Regions from separate parts of the Homo sapiens genome. Here region 1 is linked to region 2. Evidence: fine-mapped expression QTL. A gene starts in region 2. The other region holds a variant in brackets. All regions are shown on one strand. Distances are from middle to middle.

Region 1 (15,299 bases), 180 kb before region 2:
GGATACATCTACAGAATGAAAAGGAAACCCAATACACAGAATGAAAGAAAATATCTCCAAATCATACATGTGATAAAAGGTTCATATCTAGCATATATAAAGAACTCTTAACACTCAAAAAGAAATTAAACAACACAATTTAAAAATGGGCAAAGGACTTGAATAGATATCTCTCCAAAGAAGATGTACAAATAGCTAATAAGTACATAAAGCTGCTCCATATTACTAATCACTACAGAAATCAAAACCACAATGAGATAACCACTTCGCCTCCATCAGGATGGGTTTTTTCTTTTTTTGAGTTGGAGTCTCGCTCTGTCGCCCAGGCTGGAGTGCAGTGGTGCAATCTCGACTCTCTGCAACCTCCGCCTCCTGGGTTAAAGCAATTCTCCTGTGTCAGCCTCCCGAATAGCTGGTATTACAGGCACGCACCACCACGCCAGCTAGTTTTTGTAGTTTTGGTAGAGATGGGGTTTCACCCCACACCAGTTGGCCGGACTGGTCTCCAACTCCTGACCTCAAGTGATCTACCCAACCCAGCCTCCCAAAGTGCTGGGATTACAGGTGTGAGCCACCGCGCCTGGCCAGGATGGCTACTATAAATACAAACAAAACAGAAAATAGTAAATGTTGGGGAGAATTCGGAGAAATTAGAACCCTCATTCATTGCTGGTAGAAATATCAAATGGTGCAGCCATTGTGGAAAACGGTATGGTGGTTCCTCAAAACAAACAAACAAACAAACAAACAAAAAACACATAGAATTACCATATGATACAGCAATTCCATTTCCAGGTATATACCCAAAAAGAACCGAAAGCAGGGACTTGAATAATATTTGGACACTAATTTTCAGAGCAACATTCTTCACAATAGCCAAAAGGTGGTAACAACCCATGAACAGATGAATGGGTAAACAAAATGTGGCGTATACCTACAACAGAATAGAGTTCAACCTGAAAAAAGAATGAAATTCTAACGCTACAACATAAATGCTCCCTGATGACATTATGCTAAGTAAATAAGCCAGTCATTAAACAACAACAACAACAAAGACTGTATGATTCCACTTATATGGGTTACCTAGAGTAGTCAAATTCATAGAGACGAAAAGTAGAATGGTGGCTCCCAGGAGCTGAAGGGAGGAGGAAAGGGTAGCTACTGTTTAATGGGTACAGTTTCTCTTTGGGGAGAAGACAGAATTCTGGAGATGGACGTGATGATGGTTACACAGCAGTGTGAATGTACTGAATGCCACTAAACTGTACACTTTAAAATGGTTAACATAAAATGGTAAATTTTATGTTATATATATATAACCACAATTTTTAAAAATAAATCCTTTTTAAAAAACATGTATGATTATTCTGGTAGCAGCATCAGAGTCACTTTCTTCCTTCTAGTTTGCTGACTTCAGTTTGAAGAATTTGCCTTCTTTGGTTTGCTGACTAATGACCTGAAAGGGGCCTGGTCACTGGAGGGAGTAGGGAGAGCTGACTTGAGACTGAACAGGGGCTTGGGAAGAGCCGTCAAAGGGATGATCCCCCCGCAGATAAACAGAGTGTGGAGAAAGCGCCAGAATTACTGTCATCTTTTATGGCTCACTCGGATAGCTTGGAGCCGATTATGTCACCCAGTGGGGAAAGATCAGCTTTTCTGCTGGCCCAGTGCTGGGAGCTCTTGGGAGGTGGGAAAGTAAATTGCAGTGGGCCGAGGCTGATGGGTGGGCAGGGGTGTCGCAGTGTGGAGGGAAGCGCTGAAGCTATCCCTACAGGGAACAGTCCTACCCCTTTAATGACTAGAAAAACAGTTTTTTAAGAAATAGGACATTTTCTAAATTATAACATCTAGATGGAAACCACAGTGGGGATGAGAAGACCAACAGGAGGCTGAGCAACGACAGCTCAGGTTTGCATGTTCACTTAAAGAGTCGCTGGAATCCAGGTTGCCCTGTTACTAATTAAAACAACAACAACACTTAACCATGAAAACCCATAATCGAGGAGTGACTGTTTACATTAAATTACTGGGGATTATAAGTTGATTCCCTTCAACTCTGACTTCTCAGATGGCCATGTTTACAGTCCCAGCAGGGAAGTTAACAAACTCGTGTTAAGGGTTACTGCTAACTGAAGGTTGACCATAAAAAATGCATGTGAAATGATCTTGTAAACTAGCATCACAGTTTACAGGAAGGTCCACTTTATGGATATTGCCATGCCAACAATTGATTCTGTGTTCCCCATGCAAACTCCAGGCTTCCCAAGGCTTACAGCTGGGGGCTGTGCAGGGAAGGCAAGTTCTTATTCATGCTAGTCTCGGTGAACTCTAATTTTTAAAAAATGGATTCGGGAACACACATCCTGTCCAGAGGAAGGAGGATAAAGCAAGGGTGTTAGAGGGGGGATAAAGGGGGTCTTTCCTACCCTTTCCCCCTGCATTCCATGCCCCCACAGCCTATTATCTATGCCCCTGGGATTGACCAGCTGCTACTAGATCTGTCTTTGCTGCTGATGCTGAGTAAGTGGGACTCTGGTCAGACTACACACCCCTGACGGTAAGAATCATGTCTCTCCATCAGTCTGGGACTCTAATAACAACAAAAATAATATAGCAACAAAAATAATAGCTATCATTTAGTGAGCATTTACAATGAGCCAGGAATTATTCTAAGTACTTTACATATATTAACCCATTGAATCCTCATCAGAACCCTGAGATAAGTTCTACTGTTATCTGCATTTGACAGATAGACAAATGAAAGAAAGCCTGGGGAGGTGAACCAGTTTGCTCAAGCTCATACAGCTAGTTAAGAGCCGGAAGTCCTGCCACCTTCCTCAGACTGCGACGTCTCCAAGCAGGGCTCCTGTACCTTGCAACACTTGGGGTATTTTCTGCCATGGCCATCAGGTGGGTTGGTGGGGTGAAGGGCTCTCAGAGGGATCTCGTTTCCATCAGTTTGGGAGCTGTGCTGGGCAGGGGCCCCGTCACCTCCATCAATCTGGGAGCTGTGCTGGGCAGGGGTCCTATCACTTCCCCTGTCTGGAAGCTCCCTAGGGTCTAGGGCTATGGTTCTTCTAACACATGGGGGACTTTCTAAAGACTCAGCCCCGCAGGGCTTGTGCCACCCTCTGCACCCTCCTGGGATTCTCAGAGGAGGGCAGTGACCTGACACTTCCTCAGGCAGTCCCTGGCAGCTTCCTAGGGCAGAGGCTGTGTGGAGCAGCTCCTCACACACCTTGGCTCTCCTTCCTGCCCAGCACAGGCCTCTGACCACAGAAGGAGCTCAGGATCTGTGCACTGCATGGCTTTTCTCTGGTCCCAGCTCCAGGCTGGTGGATCTGAGCGTGAGCGCGAGGTTGGGCTGGCCCCTGGGATTTAACAGGCAGTAAACAACTCCATTCATGCGTCAGTTGTTTTGCTCCAGAGCAGCCTCATCAGCTGGACAAGCCCTAACCAGATCCCTCCAAGTTCTCTGCAGGGGTGGAGATGGGGGTGGGGAACAGTGGATGGCCTGGAGCTTGGCTCTCGTCTTTTCCGAGGAGAGGCTACTTTCCACTCCCTTGAAGTCTGGGATTTTTATTGGGGAGAGGCAGGCCCTGGCAGTAAGATATTAAGTCCCTGAGAAGGAAGGGAAGGGATGCTGCTGCTACTTGTATGGCCCCTTGGCGGAGGAGGGCACCAGCAAACCAAGAAGGGAGAGTGAAAGTGGCAGTAGGCTAAGAGGTGCTCCAGAGAAGCTTCCAGAACCACTGCCTCTCTCCTGTCTCTGGGCTTGGAAGAGTTGGCCAGGATCCCCCTAAGCGCCCAGCACTTCATTCTTCCTATCCTCTCTTCTATCCTCCCAGACCAGGAGAGGACAGCAAGAATGAAGTGCTGGGGGCTTGGGGTCCTGGCCAACTCTTCCAAGGTTGGAAGGCATAGGCACAACTCTGTCAATTAAGGCAGAAAAATATAAGAAGATGAGGGTCCCTGCAGGGCAAAAGGCAGGAAAGAAGGATTTGACACGCTGGGTAGGGATTAGGAAGTTGCATGATTGGTAGAAGGTTTGCACAGGAAGAAACCCAAGGAGCAGACACTGAGGACCACAGGGGTCGGATAGGGAACTGAGGGGTTACGAACCCCTGGCAAAGGAAGTGGAGCTACTGCTGCTACTCACTGTTTGACTAGCGATTTCACCCACAAGCTCTCATTTTCTCTTCTTAGGTAGACAGATACGATGTTAATAACCTTTTTGGTTTTTTTTTTTTTTGCAAATGGGAAAGCAGATTTAGTTGTCCAGGGTCTACACAGAGTTCGCATAAGAGCTGGGAATAAAATGCTTTTCCAAGGCTCTTTGAGCCAGTTTATTGAGGGCAAAGAGCCAGGGAGGAGGGTGACAGAATGACAGCCACAGAGACCAATGAGAGGGAGGCGCCTTCATTGACCAATCAGCTCCTTGGATGTAGGCCCTGCCTACACCACACCCAAGTCTAGAATAAACCACATCGAATTTCAGAGGCAATCACAAAGTGTACACAGCACACTTTTGTGTACTTTCATAGCAGCACAGCAAACCAAAACCCGTTTTGGGTTCCACTCCACTTTTAAGGCGTCGCATCCCAGTGGTCTTTCCACCATCCTCCCCCGCCATCCAAGAAGCCCCTGCGCTTACCCGGTAGTGATGTCATCATCCTCCGTCATGGTCTTGCCCATGAGGTCACTGTCGCTCATGTAGCCGGACTTGAGGTCCACCTCATCCGAGTCCAGGGATTCGACCAGCTCCAGGCGGGAGATATGGCTGAGCTTGCTGGGGCTGCGCATGGGCATGGTGTGGGAGTAGTGGGCCCGTTCGCCGTGCATGTACCAGGCGGGCGTCCCCTCCGAGCGGCAGCTCCCACCCACAGAGGGCGCGTCACCAGCCTGCAGCCGCGGACTGGACTGGCCATAGCGCCATGACAGAGGGGACGAGCGGTTGGAGAGGCTGGACACGCTGCGTGGGTTGGCATCATCGCTGTCGTAGCAGGTCATCTCCAGGGAGCTGGGTGGAGAGCAGAAGGCACTACTTAGTCCTTGGCACAGCCGCCGTGTGCCCTGTCCCCTCACATGCACCCCAGCAATGCCTCCCCTCCACCCACAGGCCCTGTCACCTCCTCCCCACCTGCCCAAGCTCCACCTCCTCCATGAGGCCTCTGGTTGTGTGTTACCTTTGTGATACGTTATCTGTTTGACAAAGGAAATGATCTTAATTAAGTGGCTAGGGAAGAAATCCTGTATACTGTTAAGACCCTAGATTGTGTAATATGACCTAGGTTTGAATTCTTTTTTGGTATTGGTTAGTAAAGGAGCCCAAGGAAAGTAAATAACTAAAGCTTCAGTTTCCCCATCTGTACAATGGGGATAATGGCATAACATCTACCTTATAGAGTTGTAAGGATCACATATGTACAGACAGAACACAGTGCCTGGTATATGGAAGGGGTCAACAGACCTGGAGGCAAGTGGGAGAGACTGGTCACTTGAGCTTAGAAGGCCTTGGTCATTTTGTTAATGGTGTGTCCATCACCTCTCTTCTAGTAATTAGCTGAGGGCTAGCTGATTCCCAAACATCATATATAGGAAAGCTGAAGTAGAGTGCAGAGAGTATAGGAAAAGCTTTGGGAATCTGGGATGTATGGCAGGTCCCCAGTAAGACTGGTCCAAGCCACAGGCCTAGGGCAGCAGGGGAAATAAGCCTCCCCAGAGAATAGAAGCAGCCTTAACTGGACAAAGGAGAGGACACAGGGAACCAGACATGGGGGTGAAGCCAAATGTCCAGAGTCTCAAGCCTCAGGCCCTGCTAGACCAGGCCAAGGGAGCAATGCCCAGGTGAGTGCTGGATGGCCTGAGACTAGGGGAACCTGGGGGACTAGGGAAGGAGATAGGGCCAGGCGGGCTGCAGAGAGGAAATACAACTGGAATCTGGTTGAAGGGGTGGCTTGGACTTGGGTTCAGGCTGAGACCCATAATTCCATCTAGCCTAGCAGTGGGGCCAGCCCAAATCAGCCTCAGGCAGGGTCTCCATAACTTATCCTAATTAAGCCAGACAGGACTAAGTAAGCGAAACGGGGTTTGGTGGCCAAGAAAGCTGGGGCAACTGAGGCAATCTGTGGCTGGACATGAGTTACATGAGCCCAAGCAATCACTGCTCTGTGAACACATCCATTGCTTAGCCACTTTGGGGGCTGGAATGGGAGTGGGACATTGATTTTTCCATTCTGGTTTCTATCAAGTTCCTTGAAAAGAAGAAAAATTTCCAAAGTTGTCTCTATTGGACCTGAGAAAATACGGTCTTATTTTCTAACCAGCAGAACTTGAGGGATCCAAACGCTCTTGAAACTGAGTGTGCTGGGGTCCTGGCAGTAGTCCTGTGGGCAAGATGGGGGAGGCCCTGGCCAGTCAGGGCAATCAGTGGCAGCTGCTTCTGGCCCTCTGGAGGGCTTCCTGACCGTGTCCATGCCCAGCGGCTCCCCTCCTGGCCCTGCCAACTCTTTTTACTTATTTACTTATTTTTGAGACAGGGTCTCACTCTGTTGCCTAGGCTGGAGTGTAGTGGTGCAAACACGGCTCACTGCAGCCTTGACCTCCCGAGCTCAAGTGACCCTCCTGCCTCAGCCCCAAAGTAGCAGGGACGACAGGCACACATGAGCACATCTGGCTAATTTTTGTATTTTTTATAGAGATGGGGTTTTGCCATGTTGTCCAGGCTGGTCTTGAACTCCTGAACTCAAGCAATCCTCCCACCTCGGCCTCCCACAGTGCTGGGGTTACTGGCGTGAGCCACTGCACCCTGCTTCTGGCAGCCCTTTAGGAACCCCTTTGTGTTCTGCAGCTCTGCCTCATACAGTGTCTTGTTTCGGCTTCTAATTACTGTGGACCTAGACATCACATCTCCTTGGACAGAAACCGATGTGCCCCGAAGCCAGAGACTGTAGTGATGGTGCGACTTTGTCTGCCTTGCTCACTCACCACGGTATTTCAGCACTTTGCATGGCACCTGGCCTAGAGCTGGTGCTCTAGAATGAATCAAAGAGGAGCAAACCCACGATGGATGTGTGAGTAAAAAGCAAGGAAGTTCTCATCAGAAAACTCAGTCCAGCGCCCTGTGCAGTAAGTGCTTGATAAAAGCAAGCTGACCTTGACCATGGGATGAGACAGGGGAGGAAGAGGATGATGCTAACCATACTAAGAGGGTGGCGGGGATCTCCAGGGAAGCTGGTTTGGGTAGTTAGCCTACACCATGGTTATATACTAGTGTGGGAGTGAGGGCTGCACTCAGCATCTGGGTTCCTCAATTCTATTCCTGGCCTGCCCCTGTTTAGTTATTTGTACTAAAATTGCCTCTTCCCCTATTCCACAGCTCTCTCTTTTTTTTTCAGTTCCCCCAAACACATCTCTAGACATCTCTAGACTTAAGCTTGGTGAGGGGGATTCTAGCTCAGATCCTCAGTTCTTGAATTCCAGCCCTGCACCCACCCTTCAGGCTTGCCTTTCTCTGGGGAGGACACAGTTTCATTTCCTCTCCAGCCACAGTCTGACCCAGACTCTCCTCGCTGGGGGAAATGAACCAGTAGAAATTGAGGAAGCAGCACAGGAGTAAAGGCTTCTGAAAAGGAATGGAATCCAGTTATCCTGGGAGTTCCTGGGTGAAAACAGCCTTGCAGGAAGCACACACTGGACCATAAGCTCCGAGGATGAAGCTTGTGTGTGTTCTGGGGAGCCAGTGCCCAGCGCTGTGCCTGGCACACAGCTGGCATGGGTTCTGAGCATGCAGAGTACAGAACCTACCCTCATCAGCCAGCGTGACTCTGGCAGGTGCCTCCCTGCCCCCAGCCTCATTCTCTAACCCAGGGAGTATGTATATATCCTGTCTACTTCCAGGGCTAAGGGAAGGGCTCATTGATAGAAAGCCCTTTAAAAAGTAAAAGAGCCGGCAGGGCGTGGTGGCTCACACCTGTAATCCCAGCACTTTGGGTGGCCGAAGTGGGTGGATTACCTGAGGTCAGGAGTTCTAGACCAGCCTGGCCAACATGGTGAAACCCCATCTCTACTAAAAATACAAAAATTAGCCGGTGTGGTGGCACGCACCTGTAGTCCCAGCTACTTCAGAGGCTGAGGCAGAAGAATCGCTTGACCTGGGAGACAGAGGTTGCAGTGAGCTGAGATCATGCCAAGGCACTCCAGCCTGGGAGACAGTGAGACTCTGTCTCAAAAAAAAAAAAAAAAGAGCCATAAAAAGTCAGGGAATCATTGTTTTGGCTACCAGTGTGGAACAGGAATAATATAAACCAAAGCCTATGAGAGGAAGTGGCTCTAGGTCCACAGTAAACAGAAAAACCAGCTCCGGGGCTCTTGGTTCCTTTCCTATAAAGGGAGGCAGAAGCCAGAGGCCCTAGACGCTCCCCCTAAACCAGTCAGCATTATGCAAAAGGCTTGATTGAAGCCTCCCCTTTCCCACTAGAAGCAGAAAACCAATAGCGCCTGCCTAGGGTCAAGCTGTCCGGCTTAACGGAGGGACTGGGGGCTGGCTGCTCTGAGTCAGTGGCACCAGGAGGCTGGAGCTGCTACTTCTCTCCTACTCCTGTGAGTGAGTCATTTGGGGTGTGGCCCTCTCAGCAACTAAGCACTTTCTGGTGTCTTTGGCATGAGGCTGGTGGGTGACTTGGTGCTGAGAGATGTTCCAACAATTTCCTTGGATGGGGGAAGGCAGATGTCCAAGATTTCATCCGCTGGGTCCTAAACTGATAAGCCAAGCTCTGCCAGATCCCTGCTTCACTTGGGCTCCTGCTGGGGGCTTGGGGCTATGAGGGATGGCAGTAAGGGACAGATGTAAGGGGGTCCTGGAGCCCCCACCATCCACCTTTTTCCAGGACTTCCTTGGTCACCTCCCTTTCAGTAGTCAGGGTTCTGCTGGCCTGAGCAGAGGTAATCCCCAGAGAGTTTTGATTTATCTTACCATTTAAAATACTCGAGATGTCTGGGAGTAAAGGGCTGAGTGTCCAAGATGCGGGCATGGGCTGGGGATAGGGGGAGGAGTAGTACAAGGAAGGAGAAGGAGAAGGGTCATCTAAGCAGGAAGAACTACAGCCAA[C/T]GGCTGAAAGCTACTTAAGACTAAGTGCAGTTCCACATCAGAGTTGCTGCAATCCCACAATGCACCGGGGTGACTGAAAGGTAGTGAGTTGGCCGGGCGCGGTGGCTCACGCCTGTAATCCCAGCACTTTGGGAGGCCAAGGCGTGTGGATCACTTGAGGCCAGGAGTTTGAGACTGGCCTGGCCAACATGGTGAAACCCCATCTCTACTAAAAATACAAAAATTAGCTGGGCGTGATGGCACACAGCTGTAATCCCAGCTACTCGGGAGGCTGAGGCAGTGGGCGACAGAATGAGACTCGGTCTTTAAAAATAATAACAAAATATTTTTAAAAAGCCTATGTTAAAAATAAAAAAAGAAAGGTAATGAGTTCTTTGTCATTGGTGGTATGTAAATATGTCCATGGGTGTGGTCCCATCCTCAGAATCCCAAATGGCCACACCCTGGGCTAAAGAAAGTCCTTTTCCACTGCCCCTGTGTCCCAACTTTGCTCTTAATTTTCCAGCCCCAGGAGTTGGAGAGGAATCTACTTCCAGTCTAACTGGGGAGGCTTCCTAGCCCTCACACAGCCTTCCTGCCCCACACCCCCCATGATTTCCCAATCTGGCTGTCTGTTCTGCCTCCCGCTGTCCCCAGAGCTTAGCCCAGCCCTCTGCCCCACTTGGAGCTGACAGCATGAGCTCATCTGGGCAGTCCAAGGAGCCAGCAAGGGAAATTCTGAGTCACAGCAGAGCCTGTGGCCAGGACTTTGCTCCAGAGAGAGGTGCCGTGGGAAGGCTGAGTGCCCCATGCAGCTGGAGGCTATGAGGTCTCTGCAGGGAGTGGGCTAGGGGGACACACCTAACAGGGCATGGAGCTGGGTGACACTGTGTGGGCCCTGTTGAGCACTCAAGCCTCCCTCAGTGGCTCGTAGAAGAGGCCAGGGGGCACCTAACTGACACAAGAGTGAAAAGACCCAGGTGTTGAGAAGGGAATTGATTCTAGACCCCTAGTTTAATGGAGACTTAGGAACAGGAAGAGAGCATTTAGTAAACCTTCTCTTGACAGATTGAGGAGACAGAGGTCTAATGAAGGAGACTGACTATCAAAGATCACACATTGAGCTGTGTAATGGCTTCCACTTCCTGGCTCCTAAGCTAGTGATTTTCAAGCTGATTTGCTGAAATGAAATGAAATGTTCAGGCACAAGCAGACAGAAGACAAAGCCAAGCTTCTCTTGTTGAGATAAATGGATTTCCTCCTCCTTCTGCAGTGGCTCCACGCATCAGGCCACCTGGCTGACCTGGCAGAGGTGTGGAGGGACCCGGGGGCCCTGCCCTCCAGAATGGGGTGGAGAGCCAGGAAGGCAGAGGGCATGACCCTCTCTGCAGCTCGAGCTTACCTGTGAGTCACCTGGGACCCTCGCAGGCTGGACATGGTCTCTTCCAGGTTCTGCCGGAGATCCAGGACATTCTGCACTGTCCTCTTTCTCTGGGACTCTGGGTCTGGTAGGGAGAGAAGGAAGAGCTGGGTGAGTGAAGAGAACTTAATGCTGGGATCCTGGGGGTCAGGAAGTGGAGATTGACAGTGTCCCCAGGAGGCTAGTCCCTGGGCCATGATAGTCACCTTCCTCCTCCCTTTCCCAAAGACAACCAACAGAATGGGCCCTCTCAAAGGCCCTGGACATGTGCCATTGAGCCCTCTGAACCCCAGATCCTGGCAGGGGGTACAGGCATGGCTTTCTGTGTCTGTGCACTCCTTTCAGAGCCCCCAAGGAACTGCCTCTACCTCTGGCTTTGTTTTGGGGAGGCCCTGCTTCTCATAGCAGAGGTCCTGGGCAAGATTTCTCGTGGTTGAGATGAGCTGGAACATCTGCCTGAAACCCCCTATCCAGGGTTGTGCTGGTAAATGTTTAACAACTGGCTTTCGGAGGAAGGGGACACCGATGTGTGGTGTTTGCCAATTTCCCTGGTATAAAGCCTCCTATCATGGCCACTTTCAATCTACCAATCTGATGTCACTGACCACAGAGTTAGGAAGAGGGGCTAACAATTGGCTCTGGGGAACTGGTACAAGCTGGCTTCAGTACACCTAAACCCAGGCACTGACTGGTAATATCTGGGGTTGCTCTATGGGGTCCCAGGAAGTTAGTTCAGATATAGTCTCCTAAAGGTGAGGTGGCTGGTGGGAGGTGGAAGGGATGAGCAGTCATTTTCTGGAGCTTGAAGTGAGCTCTGGGCAGTCCCCACACAAGTGGTGCAATCCTGAGTGAGAAGGATGCATGGGTGTGGCCCAATCCTCAGAATCCCAAATCACCAAGAGCCATTGTATTCAACCCTGGTGTCCAGATATTAGCCTGGACGGATGAGAATCTACAACAGCAAACAGGGTGAAAATAACGTCCAAATGACTGAGAGGTGCTTGAGCATGAAGGAACTCAAAGAATGTTCTTCCTTCCTTCAGTTCATCCAATGAATCTTTATCAAGCACTTACTTCACATCAGGCACCACCCTGGGCCCTAAGGACAGTATAATGAAGAGAAGCTGGCCCTGCCCCATGGCTTATCTTTCATTTTGGAACCTAAAGTCATGAATGGAACCAAGTCCCCCAGTACCTCCCTAAAAGACAATCTGCAGGAGAGAGTCAGGGAGTGACAGAAAGATGATGGCAAAACAACAGAGAAAACCCAAGAACTCTGGCTCTCCAGGCTGCTCCCTTTTCCCCTCCATCCGCAAGCCTTCTGCCGCTGCTGCAGAGGCCAAACGCCCCCTCAGTCCCTCCTCAGCCCACAGACTCAGCAGGAGTGTAAGGTTTTTTTTAGCTGCCAAAGGGAACATTTCTGAATCTCTTCAAGAGGTTTTTATTCCCCCAAGACTAAGCTCAGGCCGGCTGGCAGGCAGCTGCTTGACTGTCTTGTCAGGGAGGGGAGGCTGGGTGGGGCGGGCAGGGAGCCTGCAATGCCCTCTCCAGAGCCTTTTGGGCACCTTTTCTGAGAACCAGCTCCACACCCAAGCCCAGCCATCCCTCCTTTCCCCTCCCAGGGGGAGCTTCTCCACCCCCACATCCTCTCATGGTCAGCACCATGAATCCAGGCCTCCATGCTGGTGGCAAGGATCAGGGACAAATGGCAGGCCACCATGCCAGTGGCCTAAGCTCTATCCCCAGTCCTGGCATCACTTCCGTGGCCGCCAATGCCTATTTATCCTGGCAAGTGTCACCTTGTAAGCTGCTCCATGGCTTTAATTGATGGCTTGGCATGAAACACAGACAGGGTCAATTTTTTAGACTCGCCAAGAAATAAAGTTGAATTCTAAAATGCCTATGTGGGGACTAAGAACATGGTGCCAAGGTGTGGGTTTCTGGCCCAGGGTGATGCTTTTTATGGGCTTGGCAGACATGAGGGACAGGCACACACATCTCCAAGGGGTGTGTATTCCCAAAGAGGAAGGTGATCAAGAGTTACTCAGAGACTTCTGTGTGTGCCAGACCCTTTGCATGCATTATCTACTTGAATCCTTGCAACATTTCTGGGAGATTTGTGCTACTGCCCCATTTAACAGATGAGAAAACTGACACTCAGAGAGAACAAGTAAACTGCCCAAGGTCACACACCTAGCATGTAGCACAAGGCAGAGTTGAGCCCAGGAAGAAACTCATACTTGTCTTGATATATCACAGGGCATCTCTGCACCACTAGCATCAAGCATGGTGACTGTTGTATAGGAGGCGCTTAGGCTGCAAGCAGTGGCTCATGCCTATAATCCCAGCACTGTGGGAGACCGAGGCCAGAGGATCGCTTCAGGCCAGGAGTTTGAGACCAGCCTGGGCAACACAGGGAGATCCTGTCTATATAAAAAATAAAAATAAAAAAATTGGCCAGGTGGCTCAAGCCTGTAATACTAGCTACTTGGGAGGCTGAGGCAGGAAGATCACTTGAGCCCAAGAGTTCAATGCTGTAATGAACTATGATCACACCACTATACTCTAGCCTGGGCAACAGAGTGAGACCCTGTTTCAAAAAAAAAAACAAAGAAGATGCTTAGTGAACATTTCAAGAATGGATGCTACCACAATTTTTTAAAATTTCCAAAAACCCATGAAAAAAAGTAAAGGGATACATACATGTCACGTTAGGAAAATGTCTTTTTTTTTTTTTTTTAAGGAAAAATGTTTAAACCACACAGTAGCCTCAGGAGAGTCATGCTGCATTCCCTAATGCCCCAGATGCTCCAGATGGGAGTCATAGACATCTAGGTCACAGGTTTGACCCTCTTTCTCCATATCTCTTCCCTCAAAGACCTCTATCCTAGCCCCTTCCTCAATTCCACATCAGCAGAGTGTGGTGGGACTATTTCAGAGTCTCCCAGAGTCGCCAAACCACAAGAGTCCTTGAAAGTCACTTAATCCTGCTGTGTCTCTGGAGAGCTGGGAGGCTGAGGTCCAGGAAGTAGGGACTAGCTGGAGATCACAGAGATGCGAATGGAAGAACACTTGACTCCAGGCAGCTTCCCCACAGGTATAGATTTGGGGCATACAGGGGAGGAGGTTAGGGCAGGGTTTGGTTTCCTTGGGGGTGACCAGGATCTGGTCTCTGCTACCAGGCTGGAGGGGCCCTGCAGAGGCTACACCCTGCAGCTCCCTCTGTGCCCCAGCAGTGGCCCCTGGTGGCCATCATGGGTATGCCGCTCTGCTTCTCCAAGGCTCAGCCCAGGGTGGGTCTGGAGGGTTGGGGCCCCTGGTAAGTCTGGCTTCCTCCACATTGCTAGGTGACAGACACATTCCCGGGGTGGTACAGCCACAGCTTCAGGCCAAGAGGACTTACCTGTGTACAAAAGAAAGGCCTCCAGAGCTCCAGAGGCTGCAGAGGGGGCCTAGGTTGAGGAGCCAATCTGACATTCACACCCATGACCCTGAAGGTGAATTTTTATATTTTAGCTTAAAAATATGAGTAAGTTACATTTCCAAGGGAATTTACTTCACCTCTCAACCCTCATCCATTCCTGATCTTCACCTTACCCCACCTCTGACCACCAACCCATAACTAAGCTTCACCCCTTTCTCACCATCTCCTGTGAGGGTGAGCATCCCGGATGGGGTGAAGGTATCTAGGGCTTCCGCTACTCTGTGATAATGAGAAAAGTAACCTAAAAGTTCAATGGTTTTTTTTTTTTTTTTGGAGACAGGGTCTTACTCTGTCTCCTGGGATGGAGTGGCATGATCACGCCTCACTGCAGGCTCAACTTCCCTGGTTTTGAGCGATTCTCCCACCTTAGCCTCCTGAGTAGCTGGGACTACAGGCATGCCCCATCACGCCTGGCTAATTTTTGCATTTTTAGTAGAGACGGGGTTTTGCCATGTTGCCCAAGCTGGTCTCGAACTTCTGAGCTCAAGCTATCCTTCTGACTCAGCCCCCCAAAGTGCTGGGATTACAGGTGTGTGCCATCGTGCCTGGCTAATGGCTTGTTTTATTGGCTAAGTTGAGATGCCCTGGAGGCTGCCTCCATGTGTCTCTGTCAAATGTTTTGCTCTGGGTGTGGGACAGGCCTGGGGACAAAACAGAGCCCAGACATGGCAAAGATGCAGAGGGAGTCTTGGTAGCCCATCCCCTTCCTCAATACCCCTAAGTGGAGGACGTGCTCAGAATACTCCCATCTTACGTGGCACCTTTGTGCAAATTAGAACAAGGTACTCTCCAGTCCAACCCACCTCTAGCCAGGTCCTAGTAGAGTACAGCGTTCTCCTTCACATGATACCAGCCAGGATGCCACCCTCCAAAACTTACTCTGGGGGCCTGGGAGTGCGTGCTGTCTTAGCTCCTACAGAACAGGGTCCAGCTGCAAGAGTGAAGTGTGTGTATGTGTGTGTGTGTGTGTGTGTGTGCGCGCAAGTAGGGTTTGAGGGGGGAAGGGGGCAGGTAGGGCTCCTAGCAGGCCCCAGGGCGACACCAAGGTCTATGGGGAGGAGCTCATGATGTTATCCTGGGCTGCCCTCCAAGCCTTTCCCTGAAAATGGAGCAACTGGGGAGAGAATGTGTGTGCTACTCAGGCTCAGAACAGATGCAAGTCTCTCCCAACCCAGCCATCACCACGGCAATTCACAGTTACCACAAACAGCAGCATAGTCCCAGCATGCACTGGGGCATCTGCAGAGTAGGATGGTGTTTCTTTCTACACACTGTTGGCTCTTATGCAAGACCACAGAGAGAGCATA
Region 2 (14,050 bases):
GGAGTTGGTGGGAAACTGGAAGACAGGAAGATACAGCCCTTTAACCCTTTAATGCCTAACTTCTAGTTATTAAAAAATGTTCACAAATTCATAGAGATGGGAAGTAAAATGGCGGTTGCCGGGGCCTTGGGGAGGAGGGAAGGGGAATGGAGAGTTACTCTTTAATGAGTACAGAGTTTAAGTTTGGGAAGGTAAAAAAGTTCCAGAGATGGCTACAGGTGATGGTTATACAACAATGCAAATGCATTTAATGCCACTGAACTGTACATTTAGAAGTGGCTAAAATGGTAAATTGTAGGTTATACATATTTACCACAATATAATTGTTAGATGTTTAAAGTACACTAATTATAATGAAAAGTATAATTAAATACATCAACCCATCCTAATGTAAAATGTTAGCACTTAGTCAAATTTTGTTGTCTTTTTACAGGGGAAAAAAAAATGAAACTTTGCAGATAAAAAAAAAAAAATTCAGAGGGATTTATCCCAGGACTAAAAGAGTGATTCAACTTAAGAAAAACAATCAGTGTAAGGCACCACACTAACACAATGAAGGAAACAAAAAACAAGCCACAGGATTATCTCGAGTGATACAGAAAACAAGCATTTGACATAAAATTCAACACCCCTTTGTGATTAAAAAAAAATGATTAGAAAACTAGAAATAGAAGATGATTTCCTCAACACAAAGGACATTTATGAAAAGCCCACAGCTAACATCACGCTCACTGGTGAAAGGCTAAAATCAAGAAATCCCCCTAAGATCAAGAACAAGAGAAGGATGTCTGCTTTCACCACTGCCACTCAACATTATACTGAAAGTTCTAGCCAGAGCAATTAGGCAAGAAAAATAAATAAAAATCATTCAAATTGGAAAGAAAGACGTAAAACTATTTCTATTCACAGTTGACATGATCCTATGTATAGAAAATCCCAAAGAATCCAGAAACAAAAAAGCTACTAGAGCTAATAAATTCAGCAAAATTGCAAGGGACAAGATCAACACACAAAAATCAGCTGTGTTTCTACACACCAGTAATACACAAGCCAAAAAGGAAATTAAGAAACAATTCCATTTATGAAAGCTTTCAGAGCATCTGAGGATTGGATATCAGAACAGTCTTGCAGTCTTTTGAAGTGGAATCATCTTGTTAGTAACGGTCCTTGGCAGAGGCACATGCATCAGAGCCTTTAATTTTATATGCATATTAGTGCATCTCATATTAAAATTAAGTAGAGCAAATAGATTTGATGGGGTGGTAGTGTGAACTGCACAGGACATGTGTAAGAACCTGAACCACATCCACAGGCAGGTCAGAGTGGCCTGGGTCTCAGCCATCCTGCCTCGCTTCACGTCTCAAGAGTCACAGGATGCTGGGAAGCAAAATCGCAGGCCTCTCGGAGGAAATCAGGCCTGAGTCAGCCTTCCCAGGAGGTTAAGGGAACAGATGAGGCCCAGGAAACGGTTTACTGTGGAGGGTGTTTTTCGCTAGACTAGTTGGAGGGGTATTTTTAAGTTGAAGAAGGAACTAAAAGTGTTTTTAATTATTATTTTTTGTGTGTGACTAGGGGCCAGAAAGACGAAGTGTTTGCCAAGTATTGCCACATTTCTTAGCTCTCCATGTTCCAGAGACTCGAAAAGTTGATAGATGCTTCCATCACAGAGATAGCTGTCTTGACCCTAATATGTTTCTGTTCCTCTCTCTAGCTAAGAGGTAAGTAACATCTGCTGAGATGGAAACGCTAGGAAGATAAAAATTCCCAGTGATTTGCTGAAAGGGAATGAGCCCTAAACTGAAAGCCAGGAGCCCTGCATTCTAGGCGGGCTTCTGCAGTACCCCAGTTGTGTAGCTCTGAGCCCATCCCTTCCCTTCAGTGGGCCTTGATTCTTGCCTGTAAAGGGGAGAAGAGCAGGGGTTGGGAGGAGTGGAGATCCTTTTAACTTTGACATTCTGGTTTTTCTTAAAGGCCAAACCCTTCAAGAAGTCAAAAGAACTTTAAAAGAAGAGGGAAGTGACACTGATTGGAAATAGGAAGGCAAAAATAGAGACAAATTGTAAAAGATGGATAGGAGATTTTTCTATTCTAGGCCACTCCTTTCTACTGGGCCCAAACTGAGTTGATACCAGAGGTTCACAGGGACTCAGGAGGGGGCTAGATTAGGCAAGAAAGGAAAAACAGCACTCCTTTAAAAAAAAGATGGAGTTTCACTCTTGGCCCCCAGGCTGGAGTGCAATGGCATGATCTCGGCTTACTGCAACCTCTGCCTCCCGGGTTCAAGCAATTCTCCTGTCTCAGCCTCACGAGTAGCTGGGATTACAGGCACCTGCCACCACACCCGGCTAATTTTCATATTTCTAGTTGAGACAGGGTTTCACCACGTTGTCCAGGCTGGTCTCGAACTCCTGACCTCAGGTGATCCGCCCCTCTTACGGGCATGAGCCACCGCACCTGGCCAAAACAGCATTCTTGTTTTCAGTTTCCCCAGGCCAAGGTTTATCAAAGAAGCCAGATCCCAGAAAAAGCCCAAATATTCAAAGCTTGCCTACTTACCCATGGGCAAATCAACATTTTTATGAACTGCTTTTGAGGGAAAAAGAAGTAGAGGGGGTCTGGGGGAGCAAATTAACTCCCAAAGAATGAATAAATGGCACTTAAATGAGATAGGAGGCCTTTGAATGCTACTTAGTTTTTCTCCCCAATTCTATTAGTTTGGCAAGCATCTATAAAGTGCCTACTGTGTGCTGAGTGTTGTGGGTGGTCAGATAGGGTGTTTGGCTGGAAGGTACTCACAGGAAGATAGGCATGTGCACAAACACCCAAATATCTAAAATACAAAGCATGGCACACTGACAATCAACAAAAACAAAAAATGCAAAGCAGAATGTGAGACCTGCCCCAAGGGAAATCAGATAAACTGCTGAAGAAGTTCAGATCAGGGGCTGTTCTCTTTCACCCGGAAATGGTGTTCTCTTTCACCTGGTGTTCTCTTTCACCTGGAAAGTTCAGGAAATAGACCCTAGGGGCTGGAGCCCAAATCTGAAAAACCTTCTTTATTCTTCCAACCGTAGCGATTTTTTCCTGGCTCCACTTTACAGAAGTGAAAACCAGGACAGAGACATGAGGAATTATTTGCTCTCTGATCATCCAGGTGGTTAGCAACACAGCCAGATAGAGAACTACAAACTGATGATTGAAAACTTCCCCTAAAAACTGATGGTGAAAGCACATACTACTAGGAAGCTCATCTTAGAAGACAAAATCCATAGAGCTGTTCCCTCTGTCTCCCTTCTTAGGTCAATCCCAAAGACACACCAACAAAAAGTCAAAGCAGGATTTAAAAAAATGTCATAAGCAAGCTGGAATCATATATATCTCTGGCCTAAAGGAAGCCAAGGTCTCTGCAGTGTCAGATCGTCAGATCCTCCTCCTGGGGAGGCCATTCTTTTTGCGAAGTCTCCAGTCCCATTACAAGTGAGTTGCCGGGGACTTCATGTAGGGGGAACAAGAGCTAGCCCACAGATGAAAACCCAGGCAAGCCCTCTGCTTTTGCACAGTGAACGAACGTGCCCACAGGCTTCTCAGCATTGAATTTGAACGAGCCAATGGTATCCCAATCATTGAAACAGGAAGCCAGATAAACAGCATGTTATCAAGGGGGGATCCAGCTCTTCCCTTAAGCCGGCGCCAGCTGCGCCCTGTGACTATCCTAACAAAGTCCCATTGACTCACCAGCTGATTTTCCTGTGTTCGGCTCCAGGGGACAAGGAACCCTCTCTGCCGGGTGGACGTCACCCCTACACACCGCCCCCGCCACCCGCCACTCGCGTCCTCTCCAGTTCCTGCCTCCCCTCTGCCCGCTGCAAACTTAGCTGCTTCTTTATCCTATGACCAGTTTTTATCGGCTCTGGGGATTAGCAGGGACCAGAGCCCAAGCCTCGGGAGCGCTCAGGTGAGCTCCCCGTGATCACCCAATTTCTGCGTTCTCCTCTCTCCCCTCTCCTCCGGGACCACTTTCTCCGCTCCCAGACGCACTGGGCGGGCGCCAGAGAGGACGGCCTCCGGGAGATTGGCGGGAGGGCGCTTCCCGGCGCATCCCGGGGGTGCGGGGAACGTTTTCTGGAACGGCCCGCGAGGTCACCTGCCCCAGCTGTTCCTCTGGCTCCTGCTGGGATGGGAGGAGTTAACTCTTGCTTCAACGAAAGGCAGAGGTGCGGGTAGGGTGTGTGCTTGCCGTGTGGGTGCGAGTATAAGAACGCAGCACCTGGTGTCTCATGATAAGATCTCAACGCACTTTAAATTGTGGGTATTTCACAACAAGGAAACTGAGGCTCAGAGGGACTGAAGTTAGGCAGCCCCCCCGGAGAGTCAACTCTAGAATCAAACGCGCAGTCAGTCCCATAGGGGTCGAAAGGGCACACACCTTCCCGGGAAGCCGCGAGCATCTTGGTTGTTATTTATTCCAGCGCCTCTCCCGAGCCCAGCCCACAGCCTCCCTCGGGCACCAACCTCCCCTACCCCGAGACTTGGTCTCGGCCTCGCAGGACCTGCCAGCCAAGCCTCGCAAAACGGGAAGCGCCAGACCCTCAGCGCCGCGACCGCGCGACCGCCCCGCGCCGGCCACTCACCGGAGCGCCTGCCCGCCCGGGCTCCGGGTCCGCGCCGCAGCCGCGCAGAGTCGCGCATCCCCAAGGGCAGCGCGGGTGCGGGGTCCGCTTCTCGCGAGCACAAAGTTTCCCGGGGCTCCCCAGGCCGCCTCGGCCCCTCGCACCAGGCTTGGCGTCCGCCGCGCACTCCAGCCTCGGGCCCCGCACTAGGGCAGCCGCCGGCCCCGGCCCCACAATGAGGAGGGAGGCGGCATCCTGAACAAAGTGCCGTCCCCTCGGGAACGGCGGCCGGGGCGGAGCCTCGTGACCCGCTGCCCCAGGCACACGCCGGCTGCCTCCACGGCGGGCCCAGGAGGGGAGTGCCTGGCGGCCGGGGGGCGGGCAGGAGGAGAGAATCCGTCCGATCGCCCTGGCTTTCCTCCCCCTGCACTGTGCCAGTTTAACCCGCAGAGGGGCGGAGGCATGGGTCCCTTCCAGACTTTGTCATTGGAAAGCTATTCCCGTAACCCTTTGCTGCCTTCGCCTTCCCGTCCCGCCTCCCAGGCTGGCCGCAGAAAGGCGGCTGCTCGGTGGCGGACCCGCGAGCTGGCAGGGCAGGAAGCCTTTGCACAATTGAGCCTTTCCTTTGCCCGGGGACCCGCCACCGCCACTTCCAGGCCGGGTTTCCTCCCTCCCCCACATGTCGTCCGGGTACCGCTCGCTGGTTCAGCCGCAGTTCTTTAGGAGAAGGGGACAGATGGATGGGCCAGCCTCTCCACCCGACTTCTGACCCCGGGCACCCACCTCCTTTCTTTCTCCACCCCACTGAACTGTCATGCTGTCTGAGCTGTCTTAGAGGAGGGGGAGGCCCCGCAAGTGCCCCGCAAATAGTAGGTGCTCAGTAAAATAAGTGACTTCTCCCCACCTTCCAGACAGCCGATGCCCCTCCTCCTTCTTCCAGGGACTTGGGAGTGGGAGGAGGGGGAAGAAGAGGAGAGAGGAAATGACAGGACCTGAGGAGAGTGAATGGGAGGAAGGCCCTCAGCCAGAACCTACTGCAGAAGCAGTGCAAGCCCCCTGCCTCCTGGCTTGGGGACTTCCAGGGTCTGCAGGAAGAAGGCAGAAGGAAGCCAGATGACCTGAGCTTTGAAGCAGGCTTTGGAAAGGGAGTAGCTGTGGCCAAGGACCCAGCAGATTCCCCTGCTCCTGCCAACAAATAAGAGGACTGATCTATTCCCAGGGCCATGGGGTTGCAAGTTGGAGGACTGATGGATAGAAAGCAAAACTGCCTACTCCCTGGGAGGTCTCACAGCTCTTTGCCAGCAAAATCAGTGTGAGCAGAGTCAGGATGAGAGCCCTTGAGTCCTCCCTGAACGCCCCACACAGTCAGTAAGGCCACAGTGGCTTTGAATTTGGAGAGATGAGACACCAGACAATGGACAAGCAGTGACATTCAAGAAGTTCCCAACTGATCAGGGAAAAAGATTTGTTGTATGATTTTTGTCCATGAAGGGAGTGAACTGCCTTTTGGCGCGGGATAAGGGGGTGGACTGCAGAGTGACACCCTTACCCTCTGTATAAAGACTAGAAGTGTGGGCTCTTAAGGCAGACTGCATGAGTTCAAATCCTGGATCAATGATTTTTTAGCCATGGGAACTTACTGAACTCTTTAACCTCTAGCTACCTCAGTTTCTTTATCTGTAAAATGGGATAATAATGGTTCCTATCTCCTAAGAGTGTTGGGAGGATTAAATGCGATACTATAGGTGACACACTTAGAATAGTGCTTGGCACATAGTAAATGCTCAGTGAACATTAGCTGTTACTTTGATCTTGGAGTAACTAACTCTTGGAGATCTAACTCTTGGAGATCTAACTCTTGGAGATGTAACTCTGCGCCCAGTTTGGCATTCAATGATGTGCTAGCTAGAATCCTTTTGTGCTCTTCCCAGTCCTGCAAAGGGGAGCCTAGTCCTTTAAGAAGAAGCACTGTCCTTTCTTGAGAGCTCAAAAGGTGGGACCCCAGGGACCAAGGACCACACAGTAGGTATGCAAATGACTATCAGAAGGTGAAATGACTCCTTGACCCATTGTGAGGCTGGATGCATAGCCCCCATCCACATTGGTAATGCTGGGATGATGTCATTCCTTGGGTGCTACCCAGAATGGAAAAGAAAGCCAAAGCTATAATTTCGTAAGGGTTAGATCTCTTCTATCAGTACACAGGATCAATATTTCTCTCCCACTTATGAGTGGCTGCTCATACAAGTTCTCCCTCACCCTGCTCCTAATGTCCCAATCAATATGGGTGACGGGATCATTTGTACCCCAAGCCTCAGCATCACACAATATACCCAGGTAACAAGCCTGCATATGTACCCCCTGAATCTAAAATAAAAATTCAGAAAAATGTCCCACTCACAGATTTCCAACAGTGAACCTGTATGTGTAGGCAAACATAATAGCATATGGACAGGTTGAGGGAGGAAGGAGTAAAGGGGCCAGTCTGGTTGGGGTGACAGGCAGAGGATATGAAAGCTACTGAAAGAGAAAGTGGATAGGACAGAGCGGCAGGGAGGAGAAGCCAGAAGAGACTCTGGACAGAGCACTGTTTGGGTAAGAAACAGGGTCCCGCCCATCCCAGAAGTGGCCTCTGCCAAATGCCTACTTTGTGAGTAGTTTTTGTCTGAACACAGTGATGACTCAGTTGCTCTGAGTCTAGCAAATGGATTTTCCTTAAATATGAAAATCAATAAGAGGTAAAGGCAAGGACCTCGCTGTGGGGAGGGGAGGATGGAGAGAGTGGGAGAGGTGCTGGGGCGTGAAATGATTTGTGAGTGATGGAAGGAGGGAGATTCAGGTTCACTGCAGGAGACCCTTGGCATAGTCACCTGTACCCCCACTCCCCACCGAGAAGGTGGCCTCCAGGACCTGCTGGCCTCACTGAGGCTCCTTAAAACCCAACAGCCCCTCTGTTCCCCTCCTCCACAGCTTAGAGCCAATCCTGCTTTGGGACAAGATGGGTAGCGAAAGGATTAATGTCAACCTGACAAATAAGTTTTAAAAAATCAGCCCAGAAGCTTGCTGTCACTCCCATAGAGTATCAGATCCGGCCTCCGACGAGATGAGAGTTTTGGGAACCCCAGGAAGTATGGCAAGTGACATTTTCAGCCCCAGCCTGATTTCTTTGGGGGCTTTGCCTGTTTTCCTGCCGCCTTGAGGTCTGTGGACCAATGCTAATTTGTTTCTTGGGTTATCTGACATGGGACTTTGAGGATTTGAACACACTCACAGCTCCTGCGTTCCACGTGGCCCACAGGGAGACTGTCTTTATCCTTCGGACTGTCTTGTTTGGGGCTCCCAGAGCAGTTTGTAAGGTCCTTGGCAGGAATATGAAGATAGCACATTGCTTTATTTTCTTGAGCACTTAATAAGCGTCACTGGAGCTTCTAAGGAGGAGTCCGAGGCAGCTTCTGACTTCCTCCTCTGAAGCACAGTGGAAAAACACTGGGCCCAGCTTCAGAAGACCTGACTCCATGCCTTGGTTCTGATGCTGGCTGAAGTGCATCACCTCAGTTTGCTCATCAGTAAAAGGGAGTGTTGACACCCAGAGGACAAGAATACCCACCTACCAAGGGCATGGTGAGTATTCAGTGAGATCATGGAGGAGAAAATGGTTTCTGCAGTGCTGCTCACATATAAGCAGAAGTGGGATTATCAAACAGAAAGCATCAGCTCATATTCCCAACCCCGCCCCACCTCCCCACCCCAGTCAAATTCACTGTGGTTATGGGCTCAGTGCTTGAAAACCCATTTTTCAGTGATAGAAATCTGACTGGCCACTAAAAATCCTTGTCCTTTCTAGCTTGATTCATTAACCAGTGAGGGGTTTCCTAGGCTAGTGGAATGGGGTTGGACATGGGCAAAACAGGCATCTCCATCCTTGGCCACTCGGGCCTCATGACTGGCCCTGGGCCCCCTTTAAGAAGGGCCCTCTGTGTTGACTGTTGGAGCTTACAGGGACCTGGGAGAAAGAGTCCATGGGGAAAAGCTGTCAGAGTAATGAATGTTTTACGAGAGTGAGCGAGTCACTGCCTTATCGGGAAGATGCTGTTTCTCACTCTCTCTCTGTTACCAGGAAGTGAGATGTACTGAAAGCCATCGTGGTGTTTTTCCAAAGATGGCCTTTGAAGAGGAGGTGTTTCTTTAAGGGGCCCAGGAGAATAGGGGTTGGGTTTGCAGGGAGAAAACCTGCCCCTTTAAGAAGCCTGGTTCTGGCTGTGGCAATCCTGTGGTATGGAAGATAATAATAGTCCCTACTTATATAGCATTTGCTGTGTGCCAACTGCTATGCTAAGCATTTAACATATATTAACCCATTTAATCTCCACAACAACCCTATGAAATCTGTACCACTTTTTATCTCCACTTTACAGGTAAAGAAATTGAGGTCAAGTGTCTTGTCTGGGTCTCAGCTAGTAAGTGATAGAGGTAGGATTTGAACTGAAGGAGTCTGGCTCCTGAGTCCATGTTTTCAAATACTACATATATGCAGAGGAAAGGAGTCTTGATAGTCTCCATAGCAGTGTGGAGAGCTTGATCATGTACTAGTTCAGCACATTTCTTTATTTCTTTTCAACAGCTTTATTGAGGTACAATTTACATATTATAAAATTCACCCACTCGAAATATACAACTCTAAATCTACAGAGTTCTGCAGCCATGACCAGAACCAAGTTTTAGAACATTTCCACCACCCCAAAAAGCTACCTTGTTCCCCATGCATGTTTTAAACTGAGTCTCAATTTTCTCAACTGTAAAATGGGAATAACAGTGCCTGCCTCATACGGTTGTTATGAGCATTAAATCAACATGTAAATGGCATAAGGTAATGGTCAACAAATGTTATCTATTATTATTACAGTCTCTTAGAGTCACTTAAATACAGACTTTTAGAGCTGGAAGTGGGAATGGTCTTAAAGACAATCTAATCAAACTCTCTCCTTTAACAGATAAAGAGATAACAGTGCCAAGATGTTAAGCAACTTGCCAATTAAGGACACAGTAAATTTAGTGGCAGAGCTGGGAATGAAACCCGGGTTTCTTGGTTGGTACTTCAGTCCTCTCTTATCTCCTGAGAGACTTTCCACTCGAGGCACAGGAATATCATTGTCCAATACCCCCTTCACCCCCCATCTTTGCCATCTTTGTGGGTGCCTCCAGAGCAATGCTGACTGGCAGGCATGGACCCTGGGACTTTGCTTGTGCTGGAATACATAGAGCTCTGGCTTTGGAGCAGGGAATGTGGCTGAGGAATGTTGGGTGCAGAATCAGGGGACCAGATCCAATGTGGAGGCTGAGACAGGAATGTCCATTGTCAGAACACGGAATGCATTAACTAAAAGAATCCAGGACACAGCCAGTCCAACGGTCAGCTAGTCTCTGCAGAGCCAGCTTCATGGGCATATGACCTGTGCAGTCACACGGGGGCTCAAGCTTAGAAAGGCCCCCTGCTTGGTTTAATGCTTTGTTGTTGCCATCTTGAAATTCACAATGATTTTTAACAAGAAATGTCACATTTTTATTTTGCACTGGATCTTGTAAATTATGTAGCTGGTTTTGCCCATGTGATAGCAGAGCTGCAGCCAGACTCTTAAGGCCCTAGCAAGGAATAGTGTCTCTCCACCCAGAACTTACTCACATGTAAACTCTATGTATAATACACAGTCATAGAGTCTTAATACCGAGCATTAGAAGAATCAAAGCCTGGGCAACATATGGAGAACCTGTCTCTACAAAAAATTTTATTAAAATATTAGCCAGACATGGTGGCACATGCCTGTTGTCTCAACTACTCAGGAGGCTGAGATAGGAGGATGGCTTGAGCCTGGGAGGTGGAGGGCGCAGTGAGCCATGATTGTGCCATTGCACTCCAGCCTGGGCAACAAAGTGAGACCCTGTCTGAAAACAAACAGAGAATAAAAGTTGTGAAACAATTTGCACATTATGATCCAATTTATGATGAAAGATGCCCCATTAAAGTATATCTTTCTATATGTACATATGCTTGTATGAAAGTATATTTTTTTAAGGTCTGGAAAAACACTTCAAACTGGCAGTCATCAAGGGAGTCATTAACTTTTTCTGTGTGTTTGAGTTTGTTTTTTACAAGGAGAATCTATTCATGTATTACATACATAATTATTAAAAAAGTGTAAGATACTCCTAATACATTCTGTAAGCATTTTCCTATATCAATAAATAGTCAGTAAATAGTCTTAAAATGCCAAGAAAAGGTGTCTTGAGAGGGGAAAGCAGAAGTAGGTGTCAAGAGGGACCCTGGAGAGTGGTAGACAGGGGCAAAGACTATTTCAGGCCATGACAGGGCCTGAGGGGAACAGGCTTGGATGTGAGGAAGGGAATACCGGGTGGGGGAACCCAGAGGTAGCTGGTGAGAGGGTGGGTGCTAGGTGTCAGCTCCGTTCAGATTTAGAGGCTGCGATGTCCACTTTGGTGAGGGTAGGGGAGGATGATAGGAGCTGGAAAAGGATGAATTGCCAAATACGACTGGAGGTAAAGGCTGTAGAGGTGAATCCAGCTGTGGTGAGAAATGGATGAGGTGGAGGTAGGCAGGTGATTCCCTGCAAGGGAGAAAGAATGGGGCTCAGATGTTGGATTTAACAGAGAATGGGAGATTTGAGGCAGTGTGGCCCAGTGGTCAGAGTGCAAGCTTTGGAGTCAGGACGGCAATCAAATCCCAGATTCACTGCATCCTAACTGTGTAACCTTGAATTCTCCTCTGGGAAACAGAAATGATCTTGATAATAGCTATGCAGTAGGGTTGCTGGGAAGATTTGATAAGATGATGGAGGTAAAGCATTGCATCCAGTGGCTGGCACAGACCCCCAAATCTTCCCCTTTTCTCTTTAATTGATTTTGTGGTTTGAGGCTCTTAAATGGCAAGAAATCATTTGCATGAATAAAGAGCCATTCTTCCAAGCACTTCCCTCCTAGTTTTCTGGGAGAGCCACTGGAAGCCAGGATTCAGAGTTCCATCCTGCAAAAGCTGAGCTGAGCTAGCCAGGAAGGAGGAGGAGCTGACTGTGGCCCAAGGGCTGGGAAGCAAGGCAGAAGGGGAGAATCCAGCCCTAATTCCCACGCTGCTGGTGCCAGTGAGGCTGACTGTGGGAAAACCTTGTCAGGGGTCACACTTTGGGATCTCTAGGAGCAAGGTGCTCTGTGAATGCTTATCTCAGATTCTCTCCACCCCTGGCCCTTTCAGTGCCCCCAGCCCAACTCCGGGGAGAGTATGAGTGACTGACAGGCCCTGCTGCAGCTGCAGCCTCCTCACTGTGGGTACAGATGTGCTCAGCAGCAGCTGTGACACGGAGCCCACACCTGTTCCCTAGATCAGCTGCTGTAACTGTACTCCTGGGAAAGCAGGCCAGGTGCTCAGGCCTTGCCAAAGCCAGGTCAGAAAGCAGGTGGAAAGTCGGGCATCTGCCTGTCATAGCAGCGGTGGAGGCTGCCTGGAAGGTCATGAGGCCCTGGGAGTCTCAGCTACAGACTGGGCTCCTCTTCCAGCCCACGCTTGTCCCCAGCTGTACGCCTCCCACAGGCCCTCTGTGGTTTCCTGACCCCCTCCCTGGGCACCACCACATTGGGGTGGGAGAGACTGAGGAGCTAGGAAGGAGGCGGGGAGTCTTGAATGGGATGCCTCTGGCCATCTGTTATTCTGGGCCTGTAAGCTGTAAAGTCAGGGGACTTGTCCTGGGAGGTGGGGGTGCCCTGGAGCTGAGCAGCAACAAGGACCGGAGGAGTCAAAGAGAACTGAGGCAGGGAGAGGCCAAGGATGAGGGTGCGTCTGGAAATGAGAGCAGGAGAGCCTCTTGCGTGGCTTTGGCTGTGGAGACCTTCGTTCCGGAGACTCTGGGCTGCCACGGGAGAATTCCACTAAGCATGTGTCGGGGGCAGGCCCGGGCAGGCGGCCGTGGGAGCGCTGCACACACTCTGCTCCAGGCCTTGGCCAGCTAAAGTGCCGCTCTGGGAGAGCCTGGATACCGGGTGAATCCAGAAATCCCAGGTCCCTGGGAAAATTTCAACAAGGCAACTCTGACACGCGTCCTCTGACACCCAGACCGACACAATATATTGCTCACGCCAATACACATAAAAACCTCCCGATAGAAAACCAGATGGTGAGTTGGCATTGCTGATGTCTGGATTCTACACCCACACCCCACATAGTGCTTATAAAGAACACACCCTCCACTCATCCAGCCCACCCCACTTTCAGGGAGAGGAATCTTGAGCCTGCGATGCTCATAATGATGCTAACGCCTCAATGGAACGGTGCTCGCCAATTTCCCCAGTATCTCTGACAGTGCCGTGCCAGAAGAAACAGCACATGTGGCAAGCAGCTCCCGGCCAGATGTGGGACACTGCTGACCCCTGCTGGCGCTTTTCTCTCCACGCCAACCAGGGAGAGCCCCAGGGAGAATGCAGTATTGGAAAAACCTTGCAATCTGTCTGGGAGGGGTAGGAAGAAATACCCCAGCTCAGAATCTCCTCATCTGGAGTGCCTTTGACGAGACTAAGATGAAATTACAGTAAACCCAGACTGAGTTTCTGGGAGGAGTGAGACAGACTAATAGTATGTCCCCCTTCAGCCTTTGTGGCCTGGAAAACCCTGCTGCCAATCCCCTTGAAACTAAATTGGGAAACCATTAGCAACACTCCTTTAGCCAAGCTCAACCTTTAGGAGGAAAAAAAAAAGTAAGAAAGAAAGAAAAAGAAAAGAAAAGAAAAGAAAAAAAACACCATCCACAAGTAGCCCAAGATTTTCCAGTTACAATCAACCCCTTCCTTACCCACCCCCTGTCCTGCCCCAACGCCTTGCAGAGTCTTTGTGAAGTTTTAGCTTAATTTATTGTGGGTTTAATATTCCCCTTAGACTAAGATGTAATCATCATGGGTTTAATACTTTTCTTTCCATGAGAGACAGTAGCACTGTGCTCTTTGAAAAATCTTTACTAAGACCAGGTGTGGTGGCTCACGACTGTAATCCCAGCACTTTGGGAGGCCTAGGTGGGTGGATCATCTGAGGTCAGGAGTTCGAGACCAGCCTGGCCAACATGGCGAAATCCCGGCTCTACTAAAAGTACAAAAATTAGTCGGGTGTGGTGGTGGGTGCTTGTAATCCCAGTTACCTGGGAGGCTGAGGCAGGAGAATTGCTTGAACCCGGGAGACAGAGGTTGCAGTGAGCCGAGATCGTGCCACTTCACTCCAGCCTAGGTGACAAGAGTGAAACATAAAAAAAAAAAAAAATCACTTTGTACCCACAGAGACGAAGTTCAAGTCTTCCAGAATCTCTACTGGAATAGTCATAGCGACCAAAGGAGGACCAGGACTCTGATAATTCCAACAGAATTAGTATGGAAGCCCCACAGCACAGAGAAGT

The links.
Region 1: its variant is fine-mapped to the expression of NAV1 in whole blood (TOPMed, PIP above 0.99).

The regions. Positions count from the first base shown.
Region 1 is chr1:201,708,111-201,723,409 of GRCh38, reverse strand. NAV1 (neuron navigator 1) reads right to left here. Exons shown (of 34, transcript NM_001389617.1): 6 at 10,491-10,593; 7 at 4,655-5,020. The region is part of intron 2 of IPO9-AS1 (IPO9 antisense RNA 1); the gene reads left to right. It overlaps MIR5191 (microRNA 5191), which reads right to left and starts at 3,902; the gene lies at 3,783-3,902. LOC124904483 (a long non-coding RNA gene) reads left to right here. Exons shown (of 2, transcript XR_007066790.1): 2 at 1-1,355. RefSeq lists enhancers at 3,140-3,786, 9,655-9,949, 9,793-10,481. The variant C/T (reference allele first, on the strand shown) is at 9,110.
Region 2 is chr1:201,529,924-201,543,973 of GRCh38, reverse strand. NAV1 (neuron navigator 1) reads right to left here and starts at 4,847. Exons shown (of 34, transcript NM_001389617.1): 1 at 4,632-4,847. LOC124904484 (a long non-coding RNA gene) reads left to right here and starts at 3,829. Exons shown (of 2, transcript XR_007066793.1): 1 at 3,829-3,955. CSRP1-AS1 (CSRP1 antisense RNA 1) reads right to left here. Exons shown (of 2, transcript NR_160747.1): 2 at 9,190-10,550.